Linked DNA regions of Homo sapiens: regions 2, 3 and 4 are each linked to region 1. Evidence: fine-mapped expression QTL. A gene starts in region 1. Each other region holds a variant in brackets. All regions are shown on one strand. Distances are from middle to middle.

What was found. PIP is the estimated chance that this variant, and not a neighbour inherited with it, causes the effect. A credible set is the group of variants that fine-mapping cannot tell apart.
Region 2: its variant is the best candidate, but not a certain one, in a credible set for the expression of NDUFC1 in thyroid (GTEx, PIP 0.85).
Region 3: its variant is the best candidate, but not a certain one, in a credible set for the expression of NDUFC1 in spinal cord (GTEx, PIP 0.72).
Region 4: its variant is the best candidate, but not a certain one, in a credible set for the expression of NDUFC1 in fibroblasts (GTEx, PIP 0.75).

Annotation. Positions count from the first base shown.
Region 1 is chr4:139,299,282-139,306,914 of GRCh38, reverse strand. It overlaps NDUFC1 (NADH:ubiquinone oxidoreductase subunit C1), which reads left to right and starts at 4,438. Exons shown (of 6, transcript NM_001184989.2): 1 at 4,438-4,499. NAA15 (N-alpha-acetyltransferase 15, NatA auxiliary subunit) reads right to left here and starts at 5,410. Exons shown (of 20, transcript NM_057175.5): 1 at 5,084-5,410. The coding sequence starts at 5,137. RefSeq lists enhancers at 5,360-5,419, 5,900-6,019.
Region 2 is chr4:139,495,397-139,503,029 of GRCh38, reverse strand. It overlaps a transcript of SETD7 not described here. Among named protein-coding and RNA genes, the nearest start is that of RAB33B, 45 kb to the right of the region's middle. RefSeq lists a silencer at 4,941-5,235. The variant A/C (reference allele first, on the strand shown) is at 4,291.
Region 3 is chr4:139,357,163-139,364,795 of GRCh38, reverse strand. NAA15 (N-alpha-acetyltransferase 15, NatA auxiliary subunit) reads right to left here. Exons shown (of 20, transcript NM_057175.5): 11 at 7,241-7,410; 12 at 4,901-5,053; 13 at 4,168-4,296; 14 at 2,859-3,072. Among named protein-coding and RNA genes, the nearest start is that of NDUFC1, 59 kb to the right of the region's middle. The variant C/T (reference allele first, on the strand shown) is at 4,009.
Region 4 is chr4:139,478,133-139,485,765 of GRCh38, reverse strand. No RefSeq gene overlaps it. Among named protein-coding and RNA genes, the nearest start is that of RAB33B, 28 kb to the right of the region's middle. The variant G/A (reference allele first, on the strand shown) is at 3,841.

The DNA of each region.
Region 1 (7,633 bases):
AAGAGAGAAGGAAGCAGCAGCAACAGCAACCAACCTACCAATACTTGATTGAAAGGCATTAGGATATGTCCATCTTTTCCAAGCAGGTTAAAATCTAAGGTGTGGATTTTGTTCTACTCTGGCAACCTCATTTTTCCTACCCTTAACCTAGATCCTAACAAAGTGGTATAAATATCTGGTAACCTCCTCAAACTTTTAGATAAACAAATAGCATCAACAGTAGGCAAAGGCCACAATTTTCTAATGACTTAATTTTCCAAATAAGTTAAAAGTTTGTAATTACAAACAAAACAAAACAAAACAAAACAAAAAAAAAACCAGACCAAAAAAAAAAAAACCAGCTTCTGGCAAACACAAGTCTTCCTTAAACTCTTACATAGGACCAGGTGCAGTGGCTCATGCCTGTAATCCCAGCACTTTGGGAGGCCGAGGCAGGCAGAACACTTGAGGTCACTAGTTCAAGACCAGCCTGGCCAACATGGTGAAACACCATCTCTACTAAAAATACAAAAAAAAAAATTAGCCGAGTGTGGTGGCAGGCGCCTGTAATCCCAGCTACTTGGGAGGCTGAGGCATGAACCCAGGAGGTGGAGGTTGCAGTGAGCCAAGATCACACCACTGCACTCCAGCCTGGGTGACAGAGCAAAACTGTCTCAAAAAACAAACAAAATAAAATAAACTCTTACATAGTATATGTCACATTAAATTCATCCCATCCTTTTTCTAGACAAATTATCAGCAAGAAACATTATGCAAGCATTTTGACTAACTTAGGACAATGCTTTAGTCAGAAAACAGAAGAGTAATATTGGAAAAAAGAGAAAAATATACAACAAAACTGAATTTTAGAGATCAACTAGACTAGATCAAGCCAGGCAAATCCACTGCAGAAACTCTAAAATTTTTGCAAACTTATGTGTAAAGCAGGTTTCCATTAAAAATTTAAGGAAAAAAATGTTTATTTTGAAATACAAACTAACTGTATTTCCTACTTAAGTTTATCATAACAAGTACAGTACAACTAACAAAGTAGCAGCTCAAAAGTTGAATGCTGCAGGAATGATTTAACAAGTTACCAAGCAGCCAGGAGCAGTGGCTCAGGCCTGTAATCCCAGCATTCTGGGAGGCCAAGGCGGGTGGATCACTTGAGGCTGGGAGTTTGAGACGAGCCTGAACAACATGGAGAAACCCCATCTCTACTAACAATACAAAATTAGCTAGGTGTGGTGGCACACGCCTGTAATCCCAGCTACTCAGGACGCTGAAGCAGAACTGCTTGAACCCGGGAGACAGAGGTTTCGGTGAGCCGAGATCATGCCATTGCCCTCCAGCCTGGGCAACAAAAGCGAAACTCCGTCTCAAAAAAAAAAAAAAACAACAAGTTACCAACCTAGCAACACTTGATTACATAGAGCACACACATCACATTATGTCCAACATTTCCTTTATCAGACCGGGCAAAAAAAAAAAAAATCTTAAAAGCACTAACTTACTATCAAATCTCAAGAAACAGAAGCAATTTCAAAAAATCAATACTATCCTTTTGGTCAGTAACACTTTCTTCATTCCTAATGTATGAGAACAATAAGGACATTTTAGCTCCTTTACTCTTCCTTCATTTAGTGACTTCCACATTTCTCTCACATATAACTTATCAATAGATCTTCAGCACTGTGATTTTGGCAATAAACTTACAGGTTTTTGCCCCACTAACACTACCACAAAAAAATTAAGATGTTTAATCAAAAATTGCTATTATATGGATGGTTAAACACACTGTGGTACATCCATATCATGGAATACTACTTGGCAATAAAAAGGAATAAACTATTAGCTGGATGTAGTAGCCCTGTAGTGATCCCCCCTACTCCGGAGGCTGAAGCGGGAGGACTGCTTGAGTCCAGTAGTTTGAGGTTACAGTGCCCTTTTGATAGAGCCTATAAATAGCCACTACACTCCAGCCTGGGCAACAGAGGAAGACTCTATCTCTAAACCCAAAAGAATGGCAAAATTATACAAATAGAGGACATGTACCGGTTGCTGGAGCCTGCAGCGAGAGGGGATGGGAGGGCGGTGGGAGAGATAATGGATGTGGTTCTAAAAGGGCAACAGAGGGGGGTACTTTGGACTGAAGGAACTTGTTCTGTAGCCTAATTGTAGTGGTGCAATCTATACATGGGATAACGCTGCATAGAAGTAAATACAGTCAGCTCTCATTATCCTTGGTGTCTGCATCCATAGGTAAAAACTATTTTTAAAAATACAATAAAAAATACAAATTTTTAAAATACAGTATAACTATATAACAGTAATATTGCATTAGGTATTATAAGTAATCTAGAGATATTTAAAGTATACATTCGCATAGGTTATATGCAAATACTACACCACTTTACATAAGGGACTCAAACACCTGCAAATTTTGGAATCTCGCGGGATCCTGAAATCAACCCCCGACAGATACCAAGGGATGACTGCACCCGCGTGCGCGAGCACTCACACGCGTGTACAAGTAAAGTGGGGAAATCTGAATAAGACTGGTGGATTGTATCAATGTTATAATAATGAACCATGGTTTTGCAAGGTATTAGTGTTGGGAAAACTGAGTAAAGTGCACTGTATTATTCCTTAAACTACGTGATTATTACAGTCTTCTCAAAATTAAAAGTTTGATTTATTTAAAAAGTGCTAACACTTGGCCGGGTGCGGTGGCTGACGCCTGTAATAGCAGCACTTCGGAAGGCCGAGGCGGGCGGATCACTAGGTCAGGAGATTGAGACCATCCTGGCTAACATGGTGAAACCCCGTCTCTACTAAAAAATACAAAAAATTAGCCAGGCGTGGTGGCGGGCACCTGTAGTCCCAGCTACTTGGGAGGCTAAGGCAGGAGAATGGCGTCAACCCAGGAGGCGGAGCTTGCAGTGAGCCGAGATCGCGCCACTGCATTCCAGCCTGGGCGACAGAGCGAGACTCCGTCTCAAACAAACAAACAAAAAAAAGTGCTAACACTTGAGAAAATCTCCATATGAACCAGATATTAGACAATATTAGAGAATGATTGTTATAAGTATACAAGACGATGTCCTTATTCTTAGGAGATGCTTGCTTAAGTATTTAGAGATGAAGTTTTTTGTTTTTGTTTTGAGACAGTCTTCCTCTGTTGCCAAGGCTGGAACTGCAACCTCCACCTCCCGGGTTCAAGCGATTCTTGTGCCTCAGCCACCCTAGTAGCTGGGACTACAGGCGAACACCACCATGCCTGACTAATTTTTGTATTTTCAGTAGAGACAGGATTTCACTACGTTGGCCAGCCTGGTCTCGAACTCCTGACCTCAAGTGATCCATCTGCCTCAGCCTCCCAAAGTGCTGGGATTACAGGCATGAGACACCGTGCCCAGCCTAGAGATAAATTTTACATCTACAACTTACTTTTATACAAATGTATATATACATATACATAGGGAGAGAGAAAGCATATATGGCAAATAAATATAAGTAAAGGTTTATGAGTGTTCCTTGTTCTCTCAACTTTTCAGTTTCATTTTTTTCAAAATAAAGAATTGTGAAAAAGAGATTAAAGATAAATTGCTATTCTAAACTTATGTTACAGTTCTACCTGCACACCAATTAGTCTTTTTAAGGGTTTAAAAGTAACTTTTTTCCTAAAACTATTTTACAGCTCCACCTACACTCTTAGTCTTAAAACAAAACAAAATTCCAGTAAGAATTTCAAGGTAACAGTTTTGCGACACTGCATGTGACTTTCTAATGTTTTTCAAAATGAATTCACTAAATCTGTAGGGCATATGGACACTTTTGTAAAATCAAAGTTAGTTCAAATGGATGATTATTCATTTCTAGAAAAACTGAATCCCCAGAGTTGTTCTACTTTTCAAACAGGTGAAATAAATTATAACTGCGGGGGAAAAGGCTAACACTTTCACACACACATCCCAAATTTTAAAAGTCTTAAATTTGGCAAATACAGTTAATTCTATCATAAGGAAACGTTTGCGTGAAAGGGGGAACCCACATACTAAATGCCAAACAAAAAATGTGCTACAATGTGTTAATTATAGCTCCAAGGCTACAGGACATATTTTACAATGTAAACAGTCCCTGCAAACATCAATGCATTTATGGTTTAAAAAAATACAAACTGCACACATTTGAACCGTAGGGAATAAGTCTGAGCTAGCGTCAACAAAATCCATCTCAAAAGTTCTTATATTCTCATTTCTCTGGTAAGTTTTTGCATGTGTTAATATACTTCAGTGTATAAGAAAAGTCTAGGTCTGCAACGTTTCAACTAAAGACTCAACTTTTTACTTCCTACCGAACCGCCCCCTCGCAATGGGCCCCACCTCCCGAGAAGAGTGACGGGGTGGGGCTGTTTCCCGCTCGGAAACTAAGAAATAAATGCCTCATCCCTACTCCAGAAACGAGAACAACGGAGGCAGAGGAGCTGAAGACTCCAGTATGCAACTGACTACAAGGAGGTAGTCGTTTGAAAAGCTTTCTTTCCTTCTCTGAACTCCTTCTTTCCCTCCTCTCAGGTCATTGGGTGACCCCGGGCCGGGCGGAGACAGGTGAATCCCAAGAGAGGAGGAAGAGGGAGGGACAGATGATGGAGGGAGAACCGCGTTTAGGCAATGAATGAGCCTGCTGCATCCGCACCACCTGTTCCTTCCAAGGGTGCCACCCCGACCTGCCAGCAGGGTTCCCACACCAACCGGGCCGCGACTCCTGCCGGTGTCGCCCACTTGCCCGCCAAAGGCCGGGCCTCTTCTCCCCCAGATCGGGGAGAATGAGAACCGGCAGTCTAGAAGCCGGGAGGTCGGGGCCTAGTCCGGAACCAGGGCCTCAAGCGTGGGGATGGAATGAAGAAGCCTGTGGTCCCTGGCGCGCGGGCCATAGTAGGAACCACAGAGAGGGAGCAAAGCAATGCATTCGGCCTGACGAGAGCTATGAAGGCGGGGTCCCGGGCGGGAGTGGCTCAGTGCCCGCCGGGCCGAGGTTAGGGGTGACAGGCCCGGTTACCGGCTAAATCCTCCCCACCGCTTGCCCGGAGCCTCACACTTACCAAGATCCGCTTGAAGAGCGCATTCTCCTTGGGCGGGAGGCTCACGGCCGGCATCGTTCCGGCTGCTCCCGCTGCTCCCGCCACCACCCGGCTCGGTCAGTCAGTTTGTCCGACCGCCGCCGCTGCCGTTCCGTAGCTGCTTCAGCCTTGAATATCTCGATCCGCCGCCACCACCAGGCCTCGGGTGTCGCCGCGTTGCCCTACCCGGACACCTCCTTTTTCCTCGTTGTCTTTTTTCCTTTCTCACTTAACGCTGCCGCCGCCTCCCCCACTACGGGTCTCCGTCGGCGGTTCACGTGGTAACTGAACAGACCGACAGAGGCAGCCAAAATGGCGGACGCGGAGGGTTTTCCCACCCGGGTCACGCTTCCTAACACGCAGGCGCGGTGACCTCCTTTCCCCACCTCCTCTGGGTTTCGGAGCTTGCCGGGAAACCTGGAGGCTGGCCTGCCTGTGGAGGCCGGGAGGGTCGGGGCAGGCCCCGCCCATCATTTCAGTGCGTGGTACCCTCGAAGCGCCCGCGGAGCTACGGGAGGCTAGGCAAGTACGGTTCAGACCGCCTCCTCATCAAAAACAGCCTCTCTGGCGCCTTCCTGCTAGATCGACCTTTCATTCCTTGGAAAGAGTCTCGCACACTGTGTGATCATCGTTTGAGCCCAAAGTGCTAAAATACAGGTGTAGGTGTTTGAGAAGCGCTGTAGTTGATTATGGACGAAATGCCTAATTTAAGGAGCAGAGGCGGAGTGGAAAATGAAAAAAGCTTCACCGCAGTGGAGACTTGTTAACAGCCCTGGGGAGAAAGGGGCTTAACAGAGTCTGGAAATCGTGAAAGAGCTTGACCGATGAAATGGGCCTGGCTGTCGTATCGGTAATTTGGTGAATGTTGCTTAAGATCAGCCTGGAAAGGTAGTTAGTCAGATCCGAAGTGACATATTTGCACTGCCAAAGGAGGCTCTGGAGGTTAAAGTATGTGTTTTAATTTCGTTGTTGAGGCCATATAATGCAGAGTTGACGGACCGACCTTATGAGTCACCTTGGAGCGGAGTAGTGGAGACTTAAAGACAGACTACCCTGGAGCTGGCTTCAAACTAGTTCTTAATATTGTGACTCGAACTCCCCATCCCCAGAAATTCTCAGATCTTAGAAGCCAAAGACTGGCAAGGATACTAGAGGGAACTACTCGAGTAGGCGAGGTCAGACTACATACCGAATAGGAGTCCTTCCAAAAATGTAAGTCATTTCATTAACAGCTGACCGTAAAACTTTTTCAAAGTGGCATTCCATTGATCTAAAAATTTTCAAGTTATATGAGCCACTTTTAACCTTTGGTTTTTGATTACCTCTTTCCAAATCCTGATTTCACTCTGTAGCATTCTTTGCATCATGAATTATTAAACAATATGTGCGTGTTTTTTACTGTTTTAAATTTATTTGCAAAGATATTTTAATTTTCAAACTTCTCTTAACTGTCCCTGAAAGGTGTGAGTTGAGATACATGTTTCCCAATATAAACTTGGGTTTTGTAGCTGCTATATTGATTGTCCTCGCCCTTCACCGGGGTCATAAATAAGGTTTTTAACAGTCAAATCCTGGAGTTTCCTTAAATTCTGTGATCTCTCTTCAAAAGTTTGAGAAAAATCATATATACAGGAAACTATGTTTCAGTTTGAAATATGGCCAGTATTTTAACCTTAACTTTATAAAACTAAGAACAAGCTTATAATTCATTTTTAAGCTGTTACTTAGTAATAACCTGCAAAATTCACTGCCCCAAGAGATCTTTCAACTGTCTGAACTATTGAAAGACAGAAAAAATAGTCTAAATGCAGTTGATAGTTTTAGCTTGGATTTCCAAATCTCTGGCTTCATATCCAAATTTCTGGCTTCATATCCAAAAATCCCTACAGCAATACTATTTGCTATAGTTCTCTAAATTTCTCCTGTAAAGAATATTCTATTTTCCTTCAGAGGAAGAAAATTTCTGGTCTTTGAAACAATCAGTAGCTTCCACCAGAACCTGAGTACCTGATTAGATGAGCCAGAAATAGAGTTTGGCAAATGTTACATTCTTTTTGGGTGATGACAAAGAAATGGCAATTTTAAAGGCTCGGCAAATACTAGTCTGATTCAACATTTAACTGATTCATTTGCTAGTTAAAATGCACCTACAGATAACAGTCTGACCACACAGTAGCCTGAATTGAATAAAAAAATATATATTTACTCTGATCACCACAATTTCACAAATAGAGATCCCATTTGAGTTATACTGTAAGTAACAGCCATGCTTTCAGAAAGTTAACATATCCAAGGCTATATGCTGCCGCTGCTGCTGCTGATGATAGTTAATTCATCTTACCCCATGTGCTTGCATGTCACTATGTTCCAAATGCTAACTCTAAAAAATATTAACCAAAAAGAAAGAAATAAAATCATTTACCTTGCAAACTTTAATTCTACAAAAGGGATATGTTGAGTGAAATTTCTCCATATATGTAAGATGTTCTCTATTGAGACTGTTACATCTTATTAAGTACTTGGATCTTATTT
Region 2 (7,633 bases), 200 kb before region 1:
ATTTTTTGTATTTTGGTAGAGACAGGGTTTCACCGCCCAGTCTGGTCTCGAACTCCTGAGCTCAGGCAATCCGCCCACCTCAGTCTCTCAAAATGTTAGGATTACAGGCGTGAGCCACCACCCCCAGCAAGACCAGCTTCTTATAATTTTATTCTCAGCCAATTTCTATCCTGATCCCGAACTTCCACCTCCTCTGCCTGGATTTCCAGCATAGCTTCTCCATCCCATCTCATTTCTCATTCTTTGCCTCCACCACGTGAAGCATCCTCCGTGATGGGGTTTCCCTCTTCCCGCCTCTGCTTCTCTTTTCCTGCCTCTCTGCTGTGGCAGAGGGAGGGTTGTGTGGTGGAAAGGACTTGAGATCTGGAGTCAGACTGGTTTCACCCGGCTTTGCCACTGTCTGTGTGACGCTGGGCTTTCGACTACTCTCTGGCAAATAAGGATTTGCTGTGGGGTTCAGAAGACTGTTTTCATGTCCTCTCTCCCTCTTCCTTCCTGTGCTCCACCCACACCCACCCCCTTGCAGTCCAGGAGAGCCAGGCTTGCCCCGCTCTTGGGCATGTCTTTCTCCCAGAGAGCCACAGGCTCTGCCCTCGTGCCCTTCAAGTCTTTGCTGCATGAGGACTTCATTGACCACCCCACTTAAACTGCAACATTCTCCTCCCCCAGCATTCCGAGGCCACTTTACCCTCCTTTATTTTTCACCATGCTTCTCATTACCTTCTAGCATACCGTAGAACTTAGTTATATTATGTTGATTGTTTATTGTCTTTCTCCTCCCTCTAGAATAGACAGGGATTTTAGTTTGTTTTATTCACTAACATATCCTTAACATTTGATACACTGTAAGCACTCAATAAATACTCGTAGAGTGAGTGCATGAATGAGAGATTGTAATGATTAGGAGAATTGGGTAATCATCTTGGGTTGAAATCCCAGCCTTGCAATTTCTAGCTGTGTGACATAACTTCTTTGTGCCTCAGTTTTTTCTATTTGTAAAATTAAACTGTGATGACAACTGGGGGAAAAAAAGATTGAGTTTTGACCCATGGATTGAGCTCACTAACTTTGCTCCGCCTGCTCTGGGATGCCACCTTTCCAGGCATAGCCACAGCTTGCCTCCTTCCAAGCAGTCCCCCGTGAAGAGCCCCTGCCCCAGGAAGCCTGGCCTGACTCTTCGGGACCTGCCGTGTCTCCGCTGCCCTGCCACATGTGGATGGACACTGCCAGACCATTATTGTGTGTTCTCGATTGTTTAATGAGTGAAGCATCTAGCTGGCCTCTCCCTTAGATGACAGGCTTTGCGGGGATCACTAGGCATATCTTCCTGGATGTGCACAAAGCACTTTCTAGGCATGTGATGTGGGAGTGACTGAACTAGAGTACTTTTATTTATTTATTTATTTATTTGGGGTTTTTTTTTGAGTACCTTTTTAAAAAATATATTTCAATAGCTTTTGGGGTACAAGTGGTTTTTTGTTACATGGAGTAATTATCCAGTGGTGAATTCTGAAATTTTAGTGCACCTGTCACCTGAGTAATGTACATTGTACCTAATATGTAGATTTTTATCCCTAGCTCCCTCCCACCCTCCCCCTTCTGAGTCTCTGAAGTCCATTATGTCACTCTGAATGCCTCTGTGTACTCATAGCTTAGCTCCCACTTATAAGTGAAAACATAACGGGTTTTGGTTTTTCATTCCTTGGTTACTTCACTTAGAATAATGGCCTCCAGCTTCATCCAAGTTCAGCACGAATTTCTTAAGCTTTACCACATAGCAGTCCCTCTTCTGGGCCATTAGCAAATCAGCAGTGAATAAAAACAAAATCCTTGCCTTTGTGGAGCTTGCATTTTAGTGAGGGAAACGGATAAGAAGCAAGTAAATGACTGTATGTGCCTGGGTAAGTGGTATGGGACAAAGAGAGGAGAATAAAGAGGGTGAGGAGGTGTGCAGGGCCAAGAGGGGTGCTATTTTTTTGTGGGGGAAAGTCAGGGAAGACCTCATTTCCTGAGAGAGAGAACAAATTATGGAGATTCCAGGGGAAACATTTCAGGCTGAGGGGGGCCGCAGAGAGCCACGACCTGAGGTGGGAATGCTCAGGGAAGCGCAGGAGGCCAGGGGACCGGCCAGTGGGGAGAGAAGAGAATCAAATTCTACAGGGGCCCCGAAAACTATTTCAAGGACTTTGTTTTAAACTCAGAGTGCGAGGTGCAGTGGTGCAGCCAGTCACGGTGGCTTATGCCTGTAATCCCAGCACTTTGGGAGGCTGAGGTGGGCAGATCATCTGAGGTCAGGAGTTTGAGACCAGCCTTGCCAACATGGCAAAACCCCGTCTCTACTGATAATACAAAAATTAGCTGGGCGTGGTGGTGCATGCCTGTAATCCCATCTACTCAGGAGGCTGAGGCAGGAGAATCGCTTGAAACTGGGAGGCGGAGGTTGCAGTGAGCCAAGGTGGCACCACGGCACTCCAGCCTGGACGACAGAGCAAGACTCCGTCTCAAAAAAACAAAACAAACAAACAAAAACCACCAGCTTTCTTAAACTTAGTTTACTACAGTTTCTGAAAATGCTTTTGAAATTGTAATTGCTGTTAGCCCTTTCATTGGAAGGATCTCAACAGAAGAATGACAAGATCTTCCTCCCACGTGTAAAAGGATCACTCAGGCTGTTGTACTGAGAATAGGCTGGAGTGGGAGTAGGGACCCAGGTGGAAGCAGGGGGTTCATGATGATGGTGGGCAGGACAGAGGGGCCATGGTGAGGAGAAGTGGTTGAACTGGCGTGCATCATAGGAAGAAACAGTAGAATGTGCTGAGATATGGCATTAGGCATTTCACTGATTATTCAGGAATGGTGAGGCCAACAGATCAGGAGACAAATGCCGCTCTCAAAAATTTGCTGAAAAATCAACTCAAAATCAAAAGGCAGATTAATTGGAGAAAAAGCACATACATTTATTTAATGTGTATACACAAGAGCCTTTAGAATGATGATCCAAAGGTATAGGGGAAATTGGCCATTTTTATACTTAGGTTCAATGAAGTATGAAATATGTTTGGACAAAAACGGCATGATCTAATGCTAACAGGCTGAGTGGGAAAACCTAGCAAAACCTCTCTGTCTAGATTCTTCCTGGCCTCTCTGAGCATGCATTCCTTTCTTCTGGGTATGGGGCAGGGTTGTCAGAACCCAGTGGGTTCTTCTTGCCCACTGCCCTGAAAACAAAAAAACAGTGCACTGAGAACAGCAGATGTTGCAGCGAAGAAAGAATTTAATGATCACAGGGCCAGCCAAGCAGGAAGACAGGAGAAATTTCTCAAATCTGCCTTCCCAAGAATTTAGAGGCTGGGGTTTTTAAGGGTACTTTGGTGGGAAGGGGGCTGGGAAACTGAAAGGATTGATTGGCTGTGGATAAAATCACAGGGGTGTCTAAACTGTCTTCATGCAGCTGAATCAGTTCCTGGGAGGGGGGGTCTTGGGACCAGGTGGCATCTCTGGGTCTGCTGAAATGCTAAATCTGAAAAATATCTCAAAGACCGATTCTTCAGGTTTCACAGTAGTAATGTTATCTACAGGAGTAGTTGGGGAAGTTATAAATCTTGCGACTCTGGGGCAGTAAGCAACTTACAGAAAAACAAGCTTGGCAATGGCAGGTCATTGTTTAACTCAGCCTATGCTTTAGCAAAGTTCAAGCCTCTACCATAATTCTAACCTTGCGTCCTCTTGTTAGTCTTTACAAATTCGATTTCCATTTTTGAACAAGGAAGGGACCAGTTCAAGGAAAGGACTATTATGGCCTCCACACAAGAATGAGGACAAGCAAGTTAACCTGGTAGAAGCAAGATAGTCAGTTATGTCAGATTTCTCTGACTATAATTTTGCAAAGGCAGCTTTAGTGCCCTTTCTGGAATGGGGGTCTTCTGACTATAGTCAAACAAGGTAGGTCAGAAAATTTTTTTCTTTTTGAGACAGACTCTTGCTTTGTTGCTCAGGTGGGAGGGCAGTGGTGCAATCTCGGCTCACTGCAACCCCTGCCTCCTGGGTTCAAACAATTATCATGCCTAATTTTTGTATTTGTAAAAGAGACAGGATTTCACCATGTTGGCCAGGCTGGTCTCCAACTCCTGGCCTCAAGAGATCCGCCCACCTTGGCCTCCCAAAGTGCTGGGATTACAGGCATGAGATAATTTCTTTATGGTCAGTTTTTACACAGAAAGGCAGAGGGAAAGTTAGAGTGATATTTTTAGGTTTTATGGCTGGCTTTGGGGAAAAATAGTTCTGGTTGGC[A/C]GGATCTGCCTTGGGGTCTATAGGCAGCCTCTGGGAAGGATGGGACTCAGAGACAGAAGGGCAGGAGAAAGTCAGAGAAAAATCTTTGCTCCTGAAGCTGCCTCTGAGGCCTTCATTTCTGGATATTGTCTTCTGAACCCCAACAATAGTTTGTTATTCACAGTTCCCAAGAGGAGGGGGCACACCATGTTACAGGGGCCACATGGGGAAGCACCAGGATCAAGTAGGAGGTAGATGGAGTAAAGAGAAAACGTAGACAAGAACCTGTATTGTGGTGTCTGCAGGAAGAAATGGAGAGGCAGTCAGCAGGCCTGGGATTGGCTAGCTTGAATAACTTCAGTAGATTCTGGGGTGTACCGGCTGTCTTTAGTTGTCTGGTACCTGACCCTGGGGTAATGGTGGCTTGGAGTGGAAGAGGCCTAAGAAGGAAGTGGTTGTAGGCACAGAGGCTGATTTGGTTAGGTTGCATGTGAAAGGTGCCAGGCCTTTGCTATCTCTAGGAATCAGCTAGCCCTGGGTGGGGGGCAGTCCCTCCAGAGCCCACAAGGCCCTAGATGTCAAAGAGTCAGCATTAAAAGACATGCTTTAATATAATAGGAAGTAAGGAATCAGGGATGAACTCCGCAGTTTTTGATCTGAGCAACTGAAAGAATGAAGTAATCACTTAGTGCAAATAACGGTCACCACTGATGATACTGATGGTCTTACCGTAAATCTCCTGCACTTTCCCAGTTTTTATTTCTATTTCCAAAACAACCCATTAATTTCTTCATGGTCCAGCTCCCTCTTGTGGTGAGGATTTATTCTCATACTGTTTCTGACATGCTGTAAAACAAACACCTCTAGGGAAAGGATGATTTAACACATTTTAAAAATCCCAGCACTTTGGGAGGCCGAGGCGGGTGGATCACCTGAGCTCAGGAGTTCAAGACCAGCCTGGCCAACATGGTGAAAACCCATCTCTACTAAAAATACAAAAATTAGCCGGGCGTAGTGGCAGGCGCCGCCTGTAATCCCAGCTACTCAGGAGGCTGAGGCAGGAGAATCGCTTGAACCCAGGAGGCGGAGGTTGCAGTGAGCCGAGATTGCGCAACTGCACTCCAGCCTGGGGAACAAGAGAGAGATTTCGTCTAAAAAAAAAACAAAAAAACAAAAAAACAAAAAAAACATGAAAACTCAGTTGATGTTCTTTCCTATCATCAGGTTGAACTTTGATTAGCTAAATTAAGACACCACTTCCAGGGCTTTTTAAATTTTTTTATTTTTTATTTTATTTTTTTTGAGACGGAGTTTCGCTCTTGTTGCCCAGGCTGGAGTTTAGTAATGGCGCAATCTCGGCTCACTGCAACCTCCGCCTCCCGTGTTTAAGCGATTCTCCTACCTCAGCCTCCCGAGTAGCTGGGATTACAGGTGCCTGCCACCATGCCCATCTAATTTTTGTATTTTTAGTAGAGACAGGGTTTCACCATGTTAGTCAGGCTGGTCTGGAACTCCCAACCTTGGGTGATTCGCCCACCTCGGCCTCCCAAAGTGCTGGGATTACAGGCGTGAGCCACCGCACCCGGACTTTATTTTTAAATGAGCCCAAATTTCAAGAGGGCTAATAGCACTTCTGGCGCCTACAGTAAACAAAGTTGAACAAAACTGGTTTATCTTTTAAAACAAACAGAAGCATTTCTGTGTCATACAGGTCTTTAAAATCTCTCTCTGCCTGGAGCACAGTTATCTGTAAAACACGAGTTATAAGATCATTAGTACTGGCTGGGCATTATAGGCATAAGCCACTGTGCTTGGCCTCTGAAATTTCTTTATCAGAATTATTATAGCACTCGGACTCTGTGTGTGTGCATGTGTGTGTGTGTGTGTACAGGAACACAACTTATCTAAGTACGATTTACAAAACCTACAGCTATGTGGAACACAGCCAGAAACCTGAGACTGAGTGACTTCTGAGCAGTCAATAGCTATTTCAGTTCATGCACTTTACTCTGTAGAAGAACAACCATAACACAGTCCCCGTGGAACATCAGGTTCCAGCCTTAGAGCCTCTGACCCAGTGAAAAGTCAGAGCCAGCAAAAGAGAGGATGGAGAAGATTTAGAAAAATGCAGCTGGGTTTCTAAAAGTCTCCTTTCTGGCTTTTCAGCACCGTGGCTTGAGATCTATGTACCTTAATAATCTCTGAAAACGTTCTCAGCCAGTTGCTTCTCCAATTTCAGTGGCCAGAAGAATCACCTGGGAACGTGTAAAAGAAGCAGATTTGGGGCTCCACTCCCAAAGATCCCACATCTGGATCAAGCGCCCTGGGTAGAACACAGAAAAGCTGGCATTCCTCTTTATAGTGCAGCCCAAGGACTGATGCTCATAATGATGTTCGTGAGTAATTAAGAAAAGATAAAAGCGAATGGAATGAACTCTGCCTACTGATAATGGCAATTGTCAGAACATAGGCTTCCCTCAAGAACTCAAAATCGCACTCTGGGAGCCATTTTAAGATCTGAAAAGAGATACCTAATAAGTTGTGCCAGAGAAATCAATAAATAAAGTCACCAGAGGGGGGAAAAAGACCCTCAAACCAGCAGGACTTGATTAGATAAAATATCTTTTAAAACAATCAGGATATTTGGAATTTTCTTCAGGCTAATATGGGAGATAAGGGAAGTGAAGTGTGGGTGTAGATAAAACCAGACTGACCACATGTGGATAAGGATTTCAGCTGGGTGATGAGTACGAGTTCATGATCTTATATGTGTGTTTTTATATGTTTTTGAAATCTCCACAATAAAAAATTACAAAAAAAGTTTAAACCCAGGTTATTAGGTATAAACGTACCAAAAAAACAGTGTCACAGAGGCAAACATTACCTAACTCTGCCCAAGCAATCATGCTCCTTGAATTTTCTGGCCCCACTGGCAACTAATCCCTATTATAAAGTGAATATATCAGAGATCATTAAACATTACGTTTATATAACTGAAAACTCCCTGATATGGTTTGGATCTGTGTCCCCACCCAAATCTCATCTTGAATTGTAATTCCCATATGTGGTGGGAGGGATCTGATGGGAGGTAACTGGATCATGGCAGCATTTTCCCCCATGCTGTTCTCATGATATTGAGGGAGTTCTCATGAGACCTGATGGTTTAAAAGTGGCAGCTTCCCCTGCTCTCTTTCTCCTGCCGCCTTGTGAAGAAGATGCCTGCTTCCTCTTTGCCTTTTGCCGTGATTGTAAGTTTCCTGAGGCCTCCCCAGCCATGCAGAACTGTGAGTCAATTAAGCCTCTTTCCTTTATAAATTACCCAGCCTCCGGTAGTATCTTTAAGGCAGTGTGGAAATGGACTAAC
Region 3 (7,633 bases), 58 kb before region 1:
TTCTGGAAGACAAGCTAATTCTACCGTGTATGCATAAGCAAAAATCTGCATGTAAAAACACGAAAATTCTAAAGACACAGTGTTAGATTGAGAAAAATGGATCATAACAACAGAAACCTATCTGTGTACTGATGTCAATACCATGTAGTTTTAATCATATCTTTAATATATGTTAGACCAAGAAACCATGCCTATGACCTACTACATTATTTTTTTCAGAATTTATCATGATAAAGGTAGCATTTGAAATCAGCGAGGAATACAAAAACCTACTCAATAAATATTACAGAGGAAATAGCAGTCTATTTTGGGGAGGAAGGGAGGTGGAAAGCCACCCTCCACCTTACAACGTATATAAAAATTAACTCCAAATGTTTAAAGAGCCAAATCTAAAAAATTGCAAAGCAGAAGTATTAGAAGAAAAACACAGAAGATATTCATAAATATATTTTAAATTTTTAAGTAGAAAAAGCCTTTCTAAGCAAGACCTAGAAGCCACAAAAAAAGACTAAATATTAAAAATTAAAACTTGTATATAATGAAAGATACTCATCTTAAAGGATAAAACCTAAGTGAAAAAAAGAAAACATATAATCCACTCCATTAAAAATCTAGAAATTGGTCAAACATTGTGGCTTATGCCTGTAATCCCAACAATTTGGGAGACCAAGGCAGGAGAATCACTTGAGCCAAGGGGCTCAAGACAAGCCTGGGCAACATGGCAAGACCATGTCTCTACAAAAATAAATTAGCTGGGTGCAGTGGCACGCACCTGTAGTCCCAACTACTCAGGAGGCTGAGTTGAGAGGACTGCCTGAGCCCAGGAGCTCAAGGCTGCAGTGAGCTATGATCGCACTAGTGGACTCCAGACTGGGCAAAAGTATGAGATCCTGTCTCAAACAAAACAAAACAAACAAACAAATAAAATATATTAATTGTAAACTAGATATTTTGCCCAACATACAAAAATGTAAAAGAACAATAACCTTCAGAGCTGGCAATAATGTAAAATAAAAGAAAATCTCAATACCCATGTTGGTGGTAATAAAAACTGATGAACCTTTTATCCCAAATTCTCATATCCTTCAACCCACCGATTTCCACTTCTAATAATCCATGCTAAATAAATATGCACATAATTATGTACAAGGACATTTACTATAGTACTATAATGGTGAAAAAATTCACATAGATTCCTACAGTCACTAAAATGTTAACAGTGAAAATAATAATTATGATATGCAGACATGGAGCAATACTATTAAATGGGGTAAAAAGTCTAAGTTGCAGAACACTGAGTATGATATAAACCCAATTATGGACTAAAGAAAAACAAATCAAACAAGAAACCCTGCAAAGAACCATCCTGAAATGCATGTGTATATGTACACATAGAACTCTGGAAACTAGTTGTGCATAAAGGGAATTGATCCTTTCACAGGGATAATTGCTGGAATGAAGAATGGGTGGGAGAAAAGTGAAAGGGGATCTTCATATTTGCTAAGTATACTTCTGTATTAATAGTCTCAGCTTTGAAAAGTTAATTGTGTATTATTTGTATAATTTGAAGAAGAGAAGGAGGGAGGCAGAAGAATAGAAAGAAAAACAAAAGAAGCCAGAGGGTCATAGCTCTCAACTTTAACAGTAAATTGTCCAGCAGATTCTTCTTACTGGTGTTTTCTTCTAAGTTGAAGCAACACCAACAGGTAGAAAGAGATTCAAGTGATATCTGTACAAAGGCTTCAGTATGTGACCTTAGAAATTTCTAAACTGTCCTTAGGCAACAGGAAGTAAAACTTAACGACAAATTAGCAAAATAATTCAAAAGCTGTTTAGCAGGAAGAAGGATATAGAAAGTAGCCAATCATATCCTCAAAAAAGAAATAGGCTTAAAAGAAAAAAAAATTAAACACACTTTTTATGCCCCAATTCCTACAACATTTTTGCCATGAGTAAGGCACAAAATTCATATTTTTGTACGTATGAGATCACTCATTCTCAGGTTCTGTCCCAAATAACTGTCTAAGAAAGACTTCTCCCTAGTCATTCCGATACCCTACTATAAAAACGGTACATTAAAAATGAGTCAAATGATAAGTCACTGTGCAATTTTCCTAGCTTTATCCCAAGCTGGTTTTTAATGTTCAAGCAATATTCATTTTTAGTAGGTTAATTATAAATTACTATTAAAAAGAGGAATAGGCTGGGAATAGTGGCTCATGCCTGTAATCCCAGCACTTTAGGAGGCCAATCCCAGCACTCTGGGAGGCCGAGGTGGGCAGATCACTTGAGGTCAGGGGTTCGAGACCAGCCTGGACAACATGGTGAAACCCCGTCTCCACTAAAAACACAAAATTAGCCAGGCGTGGTGGTGGGCACCTGTAATCCCAGCTACTCAGAAGGCTGCGGCAGGAGAATCGCTTGAACCTGGGAGGTTGCAGTGATCCGAGATCATGCACTGCACTCCAGCATGGGAAACAGAGCGAGACTCCATCTCAAAAAAATAACTAGTAATACTAATAGCCAACACTAATGTAGAATTATAATACTAATTATACAATTAGCAATCTAGTACCTGTAAAATAGTTAGCAATTTATAATTTTGGGTAAACCAGATATTAAATGTAAAACTCATAACATGCAAACTTCTTAAATGCCAATGAATAACTGCAAATTAAATTCTTGTTTAACTTTGGAAGCATAAAAGTAAACATTTTTCTTTTGTTGTTTAGAGAACCTTGTATAATATCTTTCCTCGTGGTGCTCAAGACATGGAGCAATACTATTAAATGAAAAACATAATACACATAAATACACATAAACACATCAGAGCACAAGAAGAACTCTGAATATTATACCTGTATCAGCTTCGTGTTCTTTATTCTCATCTGTAAGGGGGTTGTCATGAAGCTTCAAATAGATCTCTATAGCAATTCTTGCTGCCTTGAAGTAAAATGGATGCTGTCGAAGTACATCTTCTAGTTTTAATAAGTCCACATATGATCTAAGGGTAATCTTCCTCATACAGTATGTATGAAAGTCAAACTGGTCATCAGTGATTTCTATAAAATGCTAACAAAATTATCTTTTTATTATTATACCGAAGTACAGCAATGGCTAAGAAAACTATAAAATCAAAGCATTGGAATACTTGTTACTTTGGCATGAAAAAAACTAGTAAAATTTTAAAAAAACAATTACAATTATTCAACAGGAATATTTTGCATTTCAAATAAGCAAATACAGTTAGCCATTGTCTAGCACAGGATATGGCATACTGCAGGCACAGAATCATTTGTTGAAAAAGGAAGCTTTAAAAATGTTTATTCATTATCCCTTCCTTAATTATACTTAAAGCTATTGTGACAACATCAAACATAATTTATTTACATAGTAGTGCAAGTAGACTCACATGTTAAACATTGAGTTTTTATATTTAGAATCATTTGCAAAGGATTATAAGATGTATTTGATAATTTTTTTTTGAGGATACAAATCTGAATCCTATGCAATGTGATGCTGGTATGTGGAAAAGAAATCAATTAGCAAGTAAGTCAAGCAATCAGGAACTTGATGCATTTCAACTAAGCTTTGGTATTCTATACTTGACAATATTGCAAATGTGAAATTAGTTATATAAACTATGTTTATCTGTGTAAAACACAAAAAAGAAAAACCAACCACTAGTCATGGAAATGAGTCAGACGTGAAGAGAATTAAGAAAACAATTTTATCAAACAGCATGAAATTAGATAAGCTACAGAAGAAATATTGTGAAAAGTCTTCCAACATTTATATCTTACCAAGGGTATATGGCATCATCAATAAATTCTACAATGAACAGGGTCCTAGGAGTACTTTAATCAGCTGTGTATGTACTACTAAAGCGGCAGCAGCAATTTGGAAGGTTCAAAAATCAATAAAAACATAGCCAAGATACAAATTTTCCATAAAGTTTTTTAAAAAAGAGTTCTTACCACAAGACAATAGAGACCCTGGCTGAAAATG[C/T]AGTCTATATTTCCAGTATGAAAACTGAAAAAAGTGAATACTGATTTTAAAAAGCACCTACTATGAATTATAAAGAAATAGAAGAGAAAAAAACTATGAAATTTGTCCAAAACCATCGACAGAATAAAACAAGAAAACTTTTATGTAGAAGGTACTTACTCTCTCAATCTCATGACATTTCTTAAGTGCTTCACCAAATTTATTCATTGCTTTATAAGCCTGGGCACATTCTGTTTGGAACCACATGCACTGCATTTCATTCAAATTCTCTACCGCTGATGTTCCTTCCTATACAGAAATCAAATATTTTCAAGATCACTTTTTATCATAGACATCATTCTACCACAGAATTTTAAAAAACAAAGATGTTAAGCTGATTGGGACTCTTTCAAAAAAATTTTTAAAACATTCTTAAAGAATAGTTAACATGGGAAAACAACTGATATTCTCTAACTACTAAAAATAATTTGTAGTTTCACAGGTGAAACTGTGAAACTTTTGAACACACACTGTGTGTTCAACACTGTGAAACTTTGAAACACAAATGTAGTTTCAAAGGTCTACATAATTGAGGGTAGGGATTAATACAAGAAAAAGAACACCACCACATAGCAGGTATTCAATAAATTTTAGTTCCCTTGACCCCTAAAAAATTTATCTGAACGTACATGAATATAAACCAGTTTAAAAGTCCATTGTACAACCCTCTAAATGGAAAATCCTTTATATCAATGTTGACTCCAGTATCTTCTGATACAGTGATTTAATTAAAATCTTGGCTATTACGGTGTCAAAAATATTAAAGACAAACTTTGAAAAATAAGCATGTTATACAAGTATGAACTGGCTCATGTCTTCTTTATTCATAATTAAGAACACTAGCTGTACAAACCCTTGTAAACTTTGAGCACATTTCTTCAGCTTCTTTAATCAGGTTGGCTTTTAGCATGTATTTTGCACATTTGGAGTTGATAAATCTGTCTGCTGTGTCCAAGGCCTGGGCCTCATCCATCCACCTTGCAGCTTCTTTAATATTTCCAGCATGCTTATAAGGTACAAAAGCAAAATAAACCAGTTAGCATGCTAAGTTTACTGTGCAGGTAATTCATTATCTGTTGATAAATAATTTAAAAACAAATGAAAGTAAAGGCATTCTTGTGACTCTTAGATGCTAATCAATATAAAGAAATGCATTCTTCCATAATATAAGTTCTGATTCCTTTTTCCAGCCTTCTAGAATGTAAGCTGTCTGACAGTAAAGATTTATTTTAATAGTTTTGTCTACTGTTAATATCGCCATTGCCCAAAACTGCCTGGCACATAGTAAAAATACTCAAAAATAATTGTTAAAGAATAAATAAGGCCGGGCGCTGTAGCTCATGCCTGTAATCCCAGCACTTTGGGAGGCCGAGCCGGGTGGATCACTGAGATCAGGAATTCGAGTCAAACTTGGCCAACATGGTGAAACCCCATCTCTACTAAAAATACAAAGTAAACCAAGGGTGGTGGCGCATGCCTGTAATCCCAGCTACTTGGAAGGCTGAGGCAGGAGAATCACTTTAACCCAGGAGGTGCAGGTTGCAGTGAGCTGAGATCATGCCACTGCACTCTAGCCTGGGTGACAGTAAGACTCCATGTCAATAAAAAATAAATAAATAATAACAGAAATCTTTTTTTTTTTTGAGATGGGAGTCTCACTCTGTCACCCAGACTAGAGTACAGTGGCACAATCTTGGCTCACTGCAACCTCCGCCTCCCGGGTTCAAGCAATTCTCCTGCCTCAGCCTCCCGAGTAGCTGGGCCTGCCACCACACTTGGCTAATTTTTGTATTTTTAGTAGAGATGGGGTTTCACCATATTGGCCAAGCTGGTCTTGAACTCCTGACCTTGTGATCTGCCCACTTTGGCCTCCAAAAGTGCTGGGATTACAGGCATGAGCCACAGCTCCCGGCCAATACTAGAAGTCAAAACATAATTAAATGTGAAAGTCATAAAAGGCATAGCCAAATCTGTACGCTAAAGGAACCATGGAAACATTACTGATTAGGACCATTAGTAGACATTCCCCAATGTTCCTCATTCTAAGTTACCTAACTAGTCCATCTGGCAAAGCTTCAAAACTAATGAGCCATAATCTAGTTTTAAAAAGTGCTTCCTGGCACATGTATACCTATGTAACAAACCTGCACGTTGTGCACATGTACCCTAGAACTTAAAGTATAATTTTTTTAAAAAATCTAAAAATAAAAAAATTAATAAAAAAAATAAATAAAAAATCAAAAGTGCTTCTTTAGCCAGGTGCAGGGGCTCATGCCTACAATCTGAGCACTTTGGGAGGCCAAAACAGGTGGATCACTTTAGGCCAGGAGTTCGAGACCAGCCTAGCCAACATGGCGAAACTCCATCTCTACAAATAATACAAAAATTAGCTGGGTATGGTGGTGCATGCCTATAATCCCAGCTACCACTCCGGAGGCTGAGGCATGAGAATTGCTTCAACCCGGAAGGCAGACATTGCAGGGAGCTGAGATCGCGCCACTGCACCCCAGCCTGGGTGATGCAGTGAGACTCTTTCTCTCTCTCAAAAAAAAAAAAACAAAAACAAAAACAAACAAAAAAACTTCTTAAATATTACTTAATTTCATTATTTTCTTGCTAAACAAATTACTGGTTTATTATCAGTCCCTCAAGAGCTTTCATTACTAAATTTTATTTGCAATATGACAGAGAAAAGCCAACTTTATTTTAAGATGATACTAAAATATATGACTAAAAATTCTCAAGCAAGGCCCAGGAGTTGAGAAGTCAAAAGAGATAACCTGTAGAATTCATAATAGAATCTTCACAGTTTCATCTCAATAACATTGCCAGATACTGATATGTTATCATACTCAAATTTTAATAGAAATACACATTTCACAGCAAATAAAATTTCTTTTGGATTACCTATATACTCTTACTCTCCAAACCCAAGAGAATTACCAGATACGTGTGAATACATATACATTAATGTATGTACGTATGTGTGTGTATACGGATATAGATAAATCACCAAATTAGCATGACCACAAGTCTCAAAGTAATTGGACTGAGAAATGTACTATACTTGTTACTTCATGTTTTTTGAGTTATCAAATGTCACTTTTCCTATATTTAGAATCTATAAAATACAGAGAAAAAGTTCATGACAAGTCTCATTACCTTATAAGAAAATAGAAAAAAAGATTTTTACCTTATAGATTTTAGCTTTCACGAGAAAGAGTTCTATTAATGTAGGTGTACTTTCAATAGCAGTATTTATGTACTCCAAAGCAATAGATGGCTGACCAATTTTGTCATAATGTTGTGCCAAGTAGTACTGGACCCAAAGTAATGTGGTTGGTGGTTCCTCCTTTCCATCATCTTAGGAGAAGAGGGAGAAGAAACCAAGATGAGGCATTACATATATTAAGAGCACCCCCCAAAATGGTCCCTATGTTTATTAACAAGGGAGGTACTATGAAAGGAGTTTATTTATGTATCTAGCTATAAAACTCCTCCTAAGTTTATAAGATCTTTGGAAAGGTCCATATTTTCTTTTCTGCATCCTTATAACCCCTAGCACAATCCCTTTCATATAATAACT
Region 4 (7,633 bases), 180 kb before region 1:
GGCGCCTGTAGCCCTAGCTACTCGGGAGGCTGAGGCAGGAGAATGGTGTGAACCCGGGAGGCAGAGCTCGCAGTGAGCAGAGATTGCACCACTGCACTCCAGCCTGGGCGACAGAGCGAGACTCCGCCTCAAAAAAAAAAAAGAAAGAAAGAAAGAAAGAAAGAAAGAAAGAAAGAAAGAAAGAAAGAAAGAAAGAAAGAAAGAAAGAAATGGTCAACAATTTGGATCGGTTATCTGTGGGAAAAAAAAAACGTGTAGCACATTTTTTCAGTTTAGTAAGTCTTTTAATTACTCCGTCATGAGATAAACAGTGGACCATCCAAATAGTACAAAACATCTTCATAGTCACCTCTGATAGTTTGTAGAAAGGTCCACAGGTTTTCTGACGGGCTTCTCATTCACAGAATTTACATCTCCTCCCCTTAAAACCAAGCAAGATTTTGCGATTGCTGTTCTACATGGATACAGAGTGACCTTCGAGCTAAGTTAGAAAACGCCCCAGGGCTTTTGCAGGTTTATCTTGCGCCACTTACTCTGGGTGCTTGCAGCCACCATGTAAGAAGTCCTGCTACCTTGAGGCTGCCATACGGAGCAGCACAGAGAAAGAGAGAGCGAGAGATGCCCGAGGAGTGCCGGCTGCTCTGCCCCAGCTGCTGCATATTCTTCACCTGGACTTCAGATGACGGCAACCTCAGGAGAGACCTGTAGCCTGCACTGCCTGCACACTCCTGCCTTGCCACAGCGGCGAGACAACCAATAATTGTGGTCTTATCTACTCAGTTTTGGGGAAGCTTGTTACACAACACTAGATACTACACATATATTATTTCATTCTCACAATAACCCCGTGGGTTAGTGTCAGCCCTTTTTAAAAATGAGGAAATTGAAGCATGGAGAGGTTTGACTTTTAGAACATCTAGGATTCAGGCTGGGCACAGTGACTCATGCCTGTAATCCCAGCACTTTGGGAGGCTGAGACAGGCGGATTACATCAAATCAGTAGTTTGAGACCAACCTGGCCAACATGGCAAAAACCCATCTCTACTAAAAATACAAAAATCAGCTGGGTGTGATAGTACACTCCTGTAATCCCAGCTACTTGGGAGGCTGAGGCAGAATTGCTTGAACCCGGGAGGCAGAGGTTGCAGCGAGCTGAGATCATGCGACTGCACTCAAGCCTGGGCAACAGAGCAAGACTCTCTCTTAAAAAATAAAACATAAAATAATTTGTTTAAAAAAGAACATCTGGGCCAGGCACGGTAGCTCATGCCTGTAATCCCTGCACTTTGGGAGGCCAAGGAGGGCGGATCACCTAAGGTCAGGAGTTTGAGACCAGCCTGGCCAACATGATGAAACCCCGTCTCTACTAAAAATACAAAAAATTAGCTGGATGTGGTGGCACACGCCTGTAATCCCAGCTACTCAGGAGGCTGAGGCAGGAGAATCACTTGAACCCAGGAGGTGGAGGTTGCAGTGACCCAAGATAGCACCACTGCACTCCAGCCTGGGTAAAACTCCGTTTCAAAAAAAAAGAACATCTGGGATTCAGCTTCTTTGTGGTCTCACTCCACAGTTTAAGCGCGGCGTCCTCTGCCTCTCAGCAAGAGAGGACAGAAGCAAGGGTCAAAGGCAGTGGAAGTGATAGATCCAGGTAGGAGACTAGATGTGGGAGTTGGGGGAAGGGAAGCCTCAACAGAAGCTGGAGGTTTTGAGGAAACACAGGAAGAAAAATAAATTTAAGGAGGAAGATTGAGTTTATACATTTTATTTTATTTTTTATTTTTATTTTTTGAGACTGAGTCTCACTGTTGCCCAGGCTGGAGTACAGTGGTATGATCACGGCTCACTGAAGACTCAATCTCCTGGGCTCAAGCGATCCTCCCACCTCAGCCTCCTGAGTAGCTGGGACCACAGGTACAGACCACCACAGTCAGCTAATTTTTAAATTTTTTGTAGAGATGGTGTCTCTCTTTATTGCCTGGGCTGGTCTCAAACTCCTGCGCTCAAGTGATCCTCCCACCTCAGCCTCCCAAAGTGCTGGGATTACAGGTGTGAGCCACCATGCCCCACTGTTTATACATTTTAAATTACATGTTTGAGTGGTCCACAGATACTGCAAAAGAAAGATGGCCCACATGCAGCAGCCAATTCAGGATTTCAGAGGTAAAGGTGAGGCTCTAAACATGGGTTCAGGAATCAAGTAACTCTGAAGGTGAGATCGTAAAGGAAAGGGTGTTCAGCCAGAAGAGGATGGAAGAAAAAGGCTCAGGGAGTGCCTCCCTGTCTAGCTGGTCATACACCTTATCCTACGTGATTAAGTTCCCAATGTTTTCAGAATTAAAAAATGTATGCTCCATAGCACCTTTGGATGTACAATGGAAGAATACACTCTCAGAAGTAGGCAACATTTACTAATCTTACATTTGCATAAGGAGTTTATGAAAATATAACAAATCACCAAATTAGCAAGGATTTTTTAGTTCACACTTTAGAAGTACTTCAGAAATGCATGAAAATAGCAGTATGCTGTGTTTCCCAGTGAAGAGCTTCAGAGGCGTAGTATCACTTTCTGCAGCAGATGCTGACTGGCTTACTCGACGCCTCCCCATCCTCTTCTAGTGTGCTTTCCTGCTGCAGAGCCTGGGATGATAAAACCTGTGATTCCCAAGATATATTTGCAGCTTCAGTTCTAGGAAGTGGGTAGAGACAGGGTCACAGGGAGAATGGCCTTTCTTTCCAGTGTGATGTTGAAGATTTCAGTACTTCTGGGACAGCTTTGGGGACATTTTGTGGCCAGTCCTGAGTGTCATAGGTGCTGAGGAGAGATAGTGGTGACAGTCAACTGTCTACAACATCTGGGCATTTATCTTGGCTACTATTGTCCCTGTCTTTGTAGCATCCAAATTTTGGTCCCAGGTCCTCCTAAAGATAACATAAGCTACCCCAAATTCTCTAAGTTCCTTTCTTCTTCTTCTTTTTTTTTTTTTTGAGACAGAGTCTCGCTCTGTCACCCAGGCTGGAGTACAGTGGTGGGGTCTCGGCTCACTGCAACCTCCACCTCCCAGGTTCAAGTGATTCTTCTGCCTCAGCCTCCTGAGTAGCTAGGACTACAGGCATGCACCACCACTAATTAGCCCAGCTAATTTTTGTATTTTTAGTAGAGATGGAGTTTCACCATATTGGCCAGGCTGGTTTCGAACTCCTGACCTCGTGATCTGCCTGCCTCAGCCTCCCAAAGTGCTGGGATTACAGGCGTGAGCCACCGCGCCCTGCCAGTCCCTTTCTTCTTAAATGAGCTAGGTGAGATCCCTAACGTATACCAGTTCCATAATAGACTTTACACATATATTTTCATACAGTAGTAAAATTGTGTACCATCAATTTTATCACAGACTGACAAATTTTAACAATTTAAAGCTAGATGTACTTTTCTAGGATAACTTAGATGAGGTATTAGTTAAGCCCAAATAACATTGGCTCGAACAAGATGTAAGTCTTCTACTTGACTCTCACTTACTGGTCCAAGCATAACTGTCTGGGGCTGTGATGGTAGCAGCACAGCATCTGGGACCCCGGTTCCTTCTCTTTGGTTGCTCTGCCACTCCTAGGGTGTTGCCTAGGAATGACATCTGCATGGCGCACCCATTGTTCACTAAGTCCCTAAAACGGTGTTTTCCCCTGGCGCAGGTTTAAAGGCTGGTAGAAAGGCACTAACTCAGGTTCTCCCAGCAAGTTCCTCTCCTTGAAGGACTGATGCGCTAGGGCAGTGAGTGGGCCCCAAATTGCTCCCTGACCACACGGGCAGTCCCTAAACAGGGATAGTGCAATCGTCATCCAAAA[G/A]TTTTAGTCCCAATGTCCCCAAGTCTCTTCCACATTTCACCTCAAGTGTTCTTCCAGTTAGAATTGCATTCATCTACAGGTACTCAAATCCCCTGAACAGTGGGGATTGTTTTTCTCAGCAAAATCATGAGGTAAGTAGCCTGAGCTGGTGTGGTAGCTGCAGGACACTGTTCTCCAGAGCATTTTGTAATGCCAAGGCATCCATGCCAGTGCTATAGCCTCCCTCCCACGTGCCAGCCATGGACAGAGGAGGAGGAAGCAACCAGAGGAAAGGGCAGGCCTCTTTACAGGAAAGCAAAGTTTCCCTGGAAATCCCTGGCAAGCACCTGCTCATATCTCTTTGGCCAGAACTGTGATATGTGGCCATACCTAGCTACAAAGGAGGCTGGGAACTGATTATCTAGTGGGCTATGTGGCCAGCAAAAGAAACCAGGGTTCTGTTAGTAAGAAAAGAGGGAGATGTGTTACGAGCTGAATTGTGCCCCTGCCCCCCGAAAAAAGATATTGGAGTTCTAATCCCTGGTACCTCAGAATGTGACTTTGTTTGGCGACAGGGCCCTTAACAGAGGTAATCAAGTTAAAGTGAGGTCATCAGGATGGGCCCTAATCCAGTATGACTGGCATCCCTATGAGAAGAGGAAATCTGGGCTGGGTGGTGTGGTTCATGTCTATAATCCCAGCACCTTGGGAGGCTGAGGCCGGTGGATCACCTGAGGTCAGGAGTTTGAGAACAGCATGGCCAACATGGTGAAAACCTGTGTCTACTAAAAATACAAAAATTAGCCAGGCGTGGTGGTGCACACCTTTATTCCCAGCTACTCAGGAGGCTGAAGCAGGAGAATTACTTGAACCCGGGAGGCAGAGGTTGAAGTGAGCCGAGATCATGCCACTGCACTGCAGCCTGGGCAACAGAGCGAGACTCCATCACACACACACAAAAAAGAGGAAAAAATCTGGCCAGGCATGGTGGCTCACACCTGTAATCACAGCACTTTGGGAGGCCGAGGCTGGAGGATCACTTGAGCCCAGGAGTTTGGGATGAGCCTGTGCAACCTAGGGAGACCTCATCTCTACCAAAAAAAATTTAAAAATTGGCCAGGCGCAGTGGCTCACGCCTGTAACCCCAGCACTTTGGGAGGCCAAGGCGGGCAGATCACAAGTTCAGGAGATCGAGACCATCCTGGCTAACACGGTGAAACCCCGTCTCTACTAAAAAAATACAAAAAAATTAGCCGGGCATGGTGGCAGGCACCTGTAGTCCCAGCTACTCGGGAGGCTGAGGCAGGAGAATGGCGTGAACCTGGGAGGCGGAGCTTGCAGTGAGCTGAGATGGCGCCACTGCACTCCAGCCTGGGCAACAGAGTGAGACTCCATCTCAAAAAAAAAAAAAAATTAAAAATTAGCTGGGCATGGTGACATGCACCTGTGTTCCCAGCTACTCAGGGGGCAGAGCTTGGCGGATTGCTTGAGCCCAGGAGGTCGAGGCTGCAGTGAGCCAGGAGAGAAATGGAACATATTCTCTCTCACAGGCCTCACAAGAAATCAACACTACTGATACTACCAGCCTCCAGAACTGTGAGACAATACATTCCTGTTTTTTATGCCACCCAATTTATGGTACTTTTTTCCTGCAGCCTAGGAAATTAATACAAGAGGGAAGACAAAAATTGGGTAGGCAACCTGCAGTCTCTGACACATCTATTTAAAAAAATAGGGTTTATAATCATTCTGAGCAAACTATCGCAAGGACAGAACACTGCATGTTCTCACTCATAGGTGGGAATTGAACAGTGAGAACACTTGGACACAGGGTGGGGAACACCACACACCGGGGCCTGTCATGGGGTGGGGAGAGGGGGGAGGGATAGCATTAGGAGATATACCTAATGTAAATGACGAGTTAATGGGTGCAGCCCACCAACATGGCACATGTATACATATGTAACAAACCTGCACATTGTGCACGTGTACCCTAGAACTTAAAGTATAATAAAAAAATAATGTTTATATTTAGAGCAGATTTAGGGTCACAGAAAAATGGAACAGAAACCATCAAGTTCCCACAGAGCCCCTGCCCATCCACACATACACACGGCCTCCCTCACTATGTACATTTATTACATTTGATAAACCTACATTGAGACATCATAATTATCCAGTACATAGCTAACATTCACTTGTGTGTGTGTGTGTGTGAGAGAGAGAGAGAAAGAGAGAGAGAGAGAGATTGACAGGGTCTCACTATGTCCCACAGGCTGGAGTGCAGTGGAACAATGTCAGCTCACTGCAACCTCTGCCTCCCGGGTTCAAGTGATTTTGCTGCCTCAGCCACCCAAGTAGCTGGGATTACAGGCGCCTGCCACCATGCCCGGCTAATTTTTGCATTTTTAGCAGAGACGGGGTTTCACCATGTTGGCCAGGCTGGTCTCAAACTCCCAACCTCAAGTGATCTGCCCGCCTGGGCCTCCCAAAGTGCTGGTATTACAGGCGTGAGCCACTGCATCTGGCCGAGAATTCTTATCTCAGGCAAGGTTAGTCTTTCTAATTATGACACAAAATGAGAGTCATGGAAAAGACTGCTAAGTTTCACTACATTAAAATTATTTTCATGCCAAAAACCATTAGAAGCAATGCCATTTGGCAAAAAACAAACTAGGAAAAAAAAATAAAACATCACTAACTTACCCAAAATATTCAGTATCCCTACAAAAGGCAAAAAAACAAAACCTGACAGAATGTGAACAGACAATTCAACAGAAAACAAAATGTAAACATTAAATATAAAAAGATGCTCAACCCTACTCATAAGATAAATGCCAGTTAAAACCACAGTGAGATATCATTTTTCACCTATTAATGTTCCTTCCAAATGTCAAAACCTTTGATAATAGACTGTGTTGTGAGTGTGTGAGGAATCAGGCATGCTTTTTATTACTAGTGCAACCTCTGAGGAGGGCGATTAGAAACCCAAATTGCAAACACAGATACCTTTCATCTAGCAATGTCACTTCTAGGAATTTTCCCTTTGTATATACTCACACATTTGAGAAATTACTTATGTAAAATGATATCCATTTTGGTAATGCTTGTAATAGCAAGACTGGAAACAACCTAAATGTTCATCAGTAGAGGGCTATCTAAATAATGGCCAACTAAAGGAATTCCATGAGACCTAAAAGAGAATGATGAAGCTTACATATTTTAACATGAATTCATCTCCAGGGTATACTGTTATGTGAAGAAACAGCAAATTCAGGGGCCAGGTGTGGTGGCTCGCACCTGTAATCCCAGCGTGGGAACTGGGGTGGGAGGCCAAGGTGAATGGATCACTTGAGCCCAGGAGTTCCAGAACAGCCTGGGTAAGATGGCAAAACCGTGGCTCTACAAAAAGTACAAAAAATTAGCTGGGTGTTGTGGCGTGCACCTGTAGTCCCAGCTACTTGGTAGGCTGAGGTAGGAAGATTGCTTTAGCACAGGAGGTGGAGGTTGCAGTGAGCTGAGATCACACCACTGCACTCCAGCCTAGGTTGCAGATTGAGACCCTGTCTCAAAACAAAAACAGAAACAAAAAAAATTCATGGTACTGGTTCCTTGTGATAAGAACTGAGGAGCTGGGAGAAAGAGTGGGAAGGAGAATTCACCATTTACTCTTTTGTGAATGGTTCAAGTATTGAACCATGTGAATGTATTTCCTATACAAAAATTTAACTTAAAAAAAGAAGTCCCATTACTGATCACATTTTATTGAAACATGGAACTCTCCATTTGCAGCAAGAAAAGATTAATAATGAGG